2 linked regions of the Homo sapiens genome follow. The protein of the gene in region 1 purifies or fractionates together with the protein of each later gene. This does not show direct contact. Each region holds a gene or a part of one and is shown in the gene's direction. Other genes may lie near its edges.

Region 1 (3,500 bases):
TAAGAGGCCCTGTACAAGAGCCAGCTCCTGCCTCCTCATCTGTCCCTTTCTCGGACCATGAATCAGCTTCCTAAAAAACTGGCCTGCTCTCTGGAGCTTCTCTGTGCTTGGTGGCATTTGGTAATTGCTCTAGCGAATGCTTCTTATCCTAGTTTTGTTGCTTTTGTTTTTTTCCTGCAGCTGTGTCTCTCCCTATGTCCCAGCCAAGAAGCAATATTCCCTGTTTCCTGGCCTGGGGCCTCCTTGATGCTCTGCAGGTGACACTGTTTCCTCTGCCTCCTCACAGTCCCCCCACCTCTGCAGGTCCAACTCCAGCCCCCCGCAAATGCCCCATGCAGACGCCACCACCCACACTCATTCATGAGTCGTTCAGGAAGGGCCCCTGCAGGCCGGGCCTGTGCTGGACACTGGGAGAGTCCCTAGGTCTCTCCTTCGGTGACTGCTGACGGGACACCAGCACAGAGGCGATGGGATGGCGGCCCGCCTTCCCCACACGGGGAGAACCGCTGTGAGATTCAGAGTCAGTGGATACTTCTTAGACCCCTGCTGGGCTCCTGGCCCTGTGCTAGTCATTTCCCTGTTTCCTAATTTAATCCTCACCACAATCCCATTCTACAGATCAGAAAACTGGGTCTCAAGAAGTTATGCAACTTGCCTGACAGCAGCTAAGCTAGTAATGCTCCCTCAGTGGCAGCTGCTTTTTTTTTTTCTTTTTTTTTTGAGACAGGGTCTTGCTCTGTTGCCCAGGCTGGAGTGCAATGGTACAATCTCGGCTCTCCTCCAACCTCCTGGGTTCAAGTGATTCTCATGCCTCAGCCTCCCGAGTAACGGATTACAGGTGTGCACCACCACGCCAGGCTAATTTTTGTGTTTTTAGTAGAGACAGGGTTTCCACACACTGGCCAGGCTGGTCTCAAACTCCCTTGCCTCAAGTGATCTGCCCACTTCAGCCTCCCGAAGTGCTGGGATTACAGGCGTGAGCCACCATGCCCAGCCCAGTGGCAGCTGCTTTCTAGTAAGAATTTGCTGGAACCTCTAGAAGAGAAGTCAGCCATCCAACCCGCCCAAGGTGAAGGCCGTGGAGAGCCGGTGATGGATCAGCCACAGGGCATGAACCGGAGGGCAGCAGCGGGAGAGGACTGAGGAGGAAGAGAAGCAGCGTAGATTTGGGAAGCTTCTACACTGCAGCATCCCTCAGCGGGTCTCCCGGGTGCCCACAATCGCCCTGTGGGATGACAGTTACCTTCCCCACTTCACAGAAGGGAAGACGCCTTCAGAGAGATGACTCATCGGCCAGGTCCCATGGTGGGGCTGACCCCGTCCGGTTGGTTCCAGCACTCTCAGAGCCCTTGTGTCCCAGGGTTGGGAAGTGGGGACAGCTGCTAGAAGGAGTGGGCGGGGGGGTGGCGGGGAGACCTGGGGAGGAGGGATTGCGGCTCGGGGTGAGTAGTGCCTGGGGGGAGGCCCATGGGAGCGGAGTAAAGGAGGGGAGGGTAGCGGAGGGCACGGCTGGCCGAGAGAAAAGTGGCTAAAGGAGTGGGCAGAGGAGTGAGTCAGCACATCCAGGCCCCAGGAGAGCCTCAGAGGAAACAGCTCAGGGCCTCGGGCCAGGGCCAAAGGCACAAATGGTGAACTCACAGCAGGAGGGAGGGGAGGGAGGGATGCCGAGCTGCAGAATGGACCAGCCCTGACTAAGGAGCTGCAGAAGTGAGAGGTGGCCACGTTCTGAAGTGGGGCTGGCAGCATTTTGCTGGGAGGGACAGAGGGGGCGAGGAAGTCTCCAAGGTCAAGACTGTGGGCCCTGAGCCCCTCCCAGATGGAGCTTCCAGAACTGGCCTGCATTGCATCTGCAGGGCCCCCAGGGCAGCAGCTTTGCCCTCAGGAAGCCCCGCTCTGCTGCTGCGTGAAACAGGTGAGGGCCAGGCTGTGGGACCCCCACTACTTCCACTTCCTGCCTCCCCCAGGAGTGTTCAGCCAGCTCAGACTCCGACGATAACTCCCATACCACAATATTGGCCCTTTTAAAGTGCACAATTCGGTGGTCTTTAGTATCATCGTGGAGCTGTGCAGCCATCACTGCTACCCTCCTCCTCCATCCAGCCCCGGACACCCACCCCTCTGCTTTCTGTCTCTGTGGATTTGCCTGCTCTGGACATCTCACATAAGTGGAATCATCCAACATGTCGTGTCTGTGTCTGGCTTCTTTTCACTCAGCATCGTGTTTTCAGGGTGCATCCATGTTGTAGCACGATTTAGCCCTTCATTCCTTTTCATGGCTGACTACTATTCCATTGTATGAATAGGCCGCATTTTATGTATTCACTCATCAGTTTATGGATGTTTAAGTTGTCTCTACTTTGGGGCTATTATGAATAATACTACCATGGACTTTTGTGTACAAGTTTTTTTGGGTTTTGTTTTGTTTTGTTTTTTTCTGAGACAGATTCTAGCTCTGTCGCCCAGGCTGCAGTGCAGTGGCACAAGCTTGGCTCCCTGCAACCTCCACCTCCTGAGTTCAAGTGATTCTCCTGCCTCAGCCTCCCGAGTAGCTAGGATCACAGGCACCTGCCACCATGCCTGGCTAATTTTTGTATTTTTAGTAGAGATGGGGTTTTACCATGTTGGCCAGGCTGGTTTTAAACTCCTGACCCCAGGTGATCCACCCGCCTCGGCTTCCCAAAGTGCCAGGATTACAGGCGTGAGCCACCACACCCGGCCTGTGTACAAGTTTTTGTGTGGACATGTGTTTTCATTTGTCTGAGCTATACACCTAGGAGTGGAACAGCTGGGTTGCATGGTAATTCTGTTTAACCTTTTGAGGACCTGCCAAACTGTTTCCACTGCCGCTGCCCCATTTTACATCCCCACCAGTAGTGATGGGTTCCAGTTTCTCCACAATCTCACCGACACTTGGCTATTGTCTGTCTTTATGATTTTAGCCATCCTAGTGGATGTCAATTTGTGTCTTATTGTGCTTTTGATTATCCTTTTTTTTTTTAACTTTTCATCATGGAGAACTTCAGACATTTACAAGGTAAATAGAATAATATAAGGAACTTCTGGGAAACCATGACTCCATGACTTAGCTACACACAATGGTCAATATTCTGCCGCTTTTGTGTATGTTTGTCTTTGAGACGGAGTCTCGCTCTATCGCCCAGGCTGCAGTGCAGTGGTGCAATCTCGGCTCACTGCAACCTCCGCCTACCAGGTCCAAGCCATTCTCCTGCCTCAGCCCGCCAAGTAGCTGGGATTACAGGCATGTGTCACCATGCCTGGCTAATTTTTGTATTTTTAGTAGCGACAAGGTTTCACCATATTGGTCAGGCTGGTCTCGAACTCCTGACCTCAGGTGATCCACCCACCTTGCCCTCCCAAAGTGCTGGGATTACAGGCGTGAGCCATTGTGCCCAGCCAATATTCTGCCATTCTTGTTTCCTCTCTTTCCATCCCCTCTCCACCTCAGATCACTTATAATCATTTGTTACTATTTTTCTTCT
Region 2 (3,500 bases), on another chromosome or scaffold:
TTGCTTGATTTACTTCCAAGATCCCAGAAGGGCACAAGAAATGTGTTCACACAATCATATGTTTTATATAAAATTTGCAAAAGATATTTAACCACAATCAGTCAACCCCATTATCATTTTACTCTGACTGTACGGCATCATATTTCCTGTATCAGGTGGTATTGGAGGGGCTGTGGGCATTTTTGAGACCCAAATGGGGAAAGTTGAGTTGAGAATAATTTTAGTTTGGCTTTAGTGGGTCATATTTATGTGGGTATCAGTCATTTCTGTATATTGATAATTTATTGCTAGCCATTCAGGGTAGCATCCACTATGCCAAAACAAATATGCAGGGCCAGAAGTCATATTGAAAAGTGAAAGTGTGCTTCCTAATGGCTCCCAGGTTCAGAAATTTGTAGGTTATTGAAGAGAAACAGATGGTGAAATGCACAGAGACAGAGCTAATCGAGGGAAAATAATTTCAATCATCCAGTGTGTAAAGCTGCAGGCAGAGAATTTGGTTTTAGAATTTGACCAGAAAACCTAGTTAAGACAGGTTCTCTCAGGAATGTATCTGATAATGTCTTACGTACGATTAAAACCACATCATATGTTACAAAATTTTTTTGATGAAAATAGTACAAAATTAAAGAATCCTGTGTATTAAGACACAAACCTATAGCAGTACTTCAAATGTGTGTGAAGTTTTATGAATCCCAGTATTAATAAGAACAAACAAAAATTTTAATCAACCATGCTTGAAATAAGACTGAAATATCTTTCTATTCTCTCTACAGAAAATAATATAAAATTTTTGCTATATGAAGAGATAATCCAGAATTATGAAATTAAAATATAGATAAAAGCTCTTAGAGGATTGTGTCTGGCAGTGGCTGAATATGAAATATTGTTTTTTAGATTTTGTGATATTTTTGATATTTAACTTTGTAAAATATTTGATTTATTATAAATCATTTTCTTGTTCTAAATAGATATTCACTTTTGTCACTAATTTTATTATTAATTTTGTATTCTTTTTGTGGTAAAATTAAATTTACTACTTTAAACATTTTAAGGTATACAGGTCTGTGGCATTAAGTACATTGACGTTGCTGTGCAACCCCCATCGCGCATCATCTCCAGAACTTTTTCATCTTTCCAAACTGAAACTCCATATTCATTAAACAATAACTCCCCACTCCTTCCTCCCCCGAGCTCTGGCAGCAATTACTCTATTTTCTAGCTCTATAAATTTGACTATTCTAGTTATCCCATATAAGTGGAATCACACAGTATTTGTCCCTTTGTATATGGCTTATTTCACTTAGCATAGTGTCTTCAATCTTCCTCCATATTGTAGCATGTATCATTTCTTTTTAAGGCTGAATAATATTCCCTTGTATATACAGTAGTCCCCCTTATCTGTGAGGATACGTTACAAGACAATACCTGAAACCATGGCTAGTACCGAACCCTATAAACACTATGTTTTTTTCCTTATACAAACACATCTATGATAAAGTTTAAATTATAAATTAGGAATAGGAAGAGATTAACAACAATAACTAATAATAAAATAGAACAACTATAACAATATATCATAATAAAAGTTATGTGAATGTAGTCTCTCTCTCTCTCTCAAAATATTGCATTGTACTGTACTCACCTTTCTTGTCATGGGAGATGCTGTGATGCCTCTGTGATGAGATGACAAGAGGTGAATGATGTAAGCATTGTGATGTAGCCATAGGCTGCTACTGACCTTCTGTATTTCTGAATCAGTGTAACCAGCCCTTTGCGGCGTGGTGTCAACTCATTTCTTGCTTGCTGAAGTCTTCGCAGATGCTCAGTGCTTTCTGGTGCAACTGGTGGTTATCAAAACATGTTTTCTATTCATGTCTTCCACCCACCCATTTAATGTCTTTTCCGTCTTAACGAAACACCCATCTTGCACTGTAGCTGTAACTTTTACAGTTTGAGTTGCAACACCAACACTAGCACGAATTTCTTTTTCCTCCTTCACAATTACCTGGATAGAAGATTTGTTCTTACCGTAGATCTTAGCAACCTCAGTATATGACTTTTTTCCTCTCCTTATTAAGCCAAGAGCTTTCAAATTTTCACTTAAAGGAAGGACTGATGGCTTCTCTTTGGCATATCCAAATTACCAGCATCACAAGTCTTGGGCTTTGGGGCCATTATGAAGTAAAATAAGGGTTACTTGAACACAAGCACTGCAACATGGCAACAGAAAATCTGATAACTGAGAAGACTACTAAGTGACTAAGGGGAGGGCAGCATGTACAGAGGCGATATGATGGACAAAGGGAAGATTCACGGCCCCATCAGGATGGAGTGGGATGCTGTGAGATGTCATCACACTACTCAGAATGGCATGCAATTGAAAACGTATTGTTTATTTCTAGAAGTTTCCATTTAATAATTTTGGACTGTGGTGGATCATACATAACTGAAACAGAGGAAAGCAAAGCTTTGGTTAAGGGGGAAACTACTGTATATATAGTACCACATTTTGTTTATTCATTCATCTGACAATAAACACTGGGTTTGTTTCCACCTTTGGAATATTGTGAATAACACTGCTATGAATACAGGTGTACAAATATCTGTAGAATCCCCTGTTCTCACTTCTTTCAGATATATACTCAGAAGTGGAATGCTGGACCATAAGGTAGTTCTGTGTTTAATTCTTTGAGGAATCACCATACTGCTTTCCACAATGGTGACAGCTCTTTACATTCCCACCAGAAATGCACAAGGGTTCTCATTTCTCCACATCATCGCCAACACTTGTTTTCTGCTGTATTTTTGTCTGGTTGGTTTTCTTTTTGTTTCATAGTAGCCGTCTGATGAGTACAAAGTGCATTCTTTTTTAAAGAGGGCCTCCCAAAAACCTGGGTCTTCTCTGTGCTCGCGTCTGAACTTTAGTTCTACCATGGCATATGGTCCATCGTCCATGATTTTGTTTCCTCGCTTGTAAAATGAGGATAAAAATAAACATGACTCTAGGATTGTTTTAAAGATTTGGTGAAATAATATATGTGAAACCATTAGCACGTAGTCTGCACTTAAAAAGTGGCAATCCCTTTCATTATTATTTACTTATATGTCTTTCTCCTGTACAACATTATGAGCTCCTCACTCATCTTCTGTCCTCAACACCCAGCATAGGACCTGACATATACTTGGTGTTTAATGGATGTTTGATGGTTGAGCTTAAAATCATCCATAGAAGACAGGCCACAATTCTTTTAGCCACAATGCATGTAGAAGTTCAAAAGTTCCTCAGTGAAGAGGAACTGAAAGTAAATATCAGAACCTTGCTGCTCTGTAATTCACTGAGTGCAATCCAGTCTTTATCAACACAGTAAAATCTTTACTGTTCTCATTCTCTAAAGTAGCTTCACTCACGCTCAGCAAATTATTTTATTTTTCTCATTAAGTTGTAAATCATATTACCTCTCCAGGTATTGCTTTAGACAAATATTTGTATTGGGTGG

Evidence for each region. The genes of interacting proteins can lie anywhere in the genome.
Region 2: the proteins of KCNG4 (region 1) and CA1 purify together in Homo sapiens (affinity purification with mass spectrometry; one large-scale study listed by BioGRID and IntAct). This does not show direct contact.

What each region holds. Positions count from the first base shown.
Region 1 is NC_000016.10:84,226,513-84,230,012, reverse strand, and holds part of KCNG4 (voltage-gated potassium channel regulatory subunit KCNG4), read left to right. Parts: intron 1-3,500. UniProt on the Homo sapiens protein: Regulatory subunit of the voltage-gated potassium (Kv) channel which, when coassembled with KCNB1, modulates the kinetics parameters of the heterotetrameric channel namely the time course of activation, deactivation and inactivation and on the voltage-dependence of activation.
Region 2 is NC_000008.11:85,371,614-85,375,113, reverse strand, and holds part of CA1 (carbonic anhydrase 1), read left to right. Parts: intron 1-2,375; exon of another isoform or gene 2,376-2,973; intron 2,974-3,500. UniProt on the Homo sapiens protein: Catalyzes the reversible hydration of carbon dioxide. Can hydrate cyanamide to urea.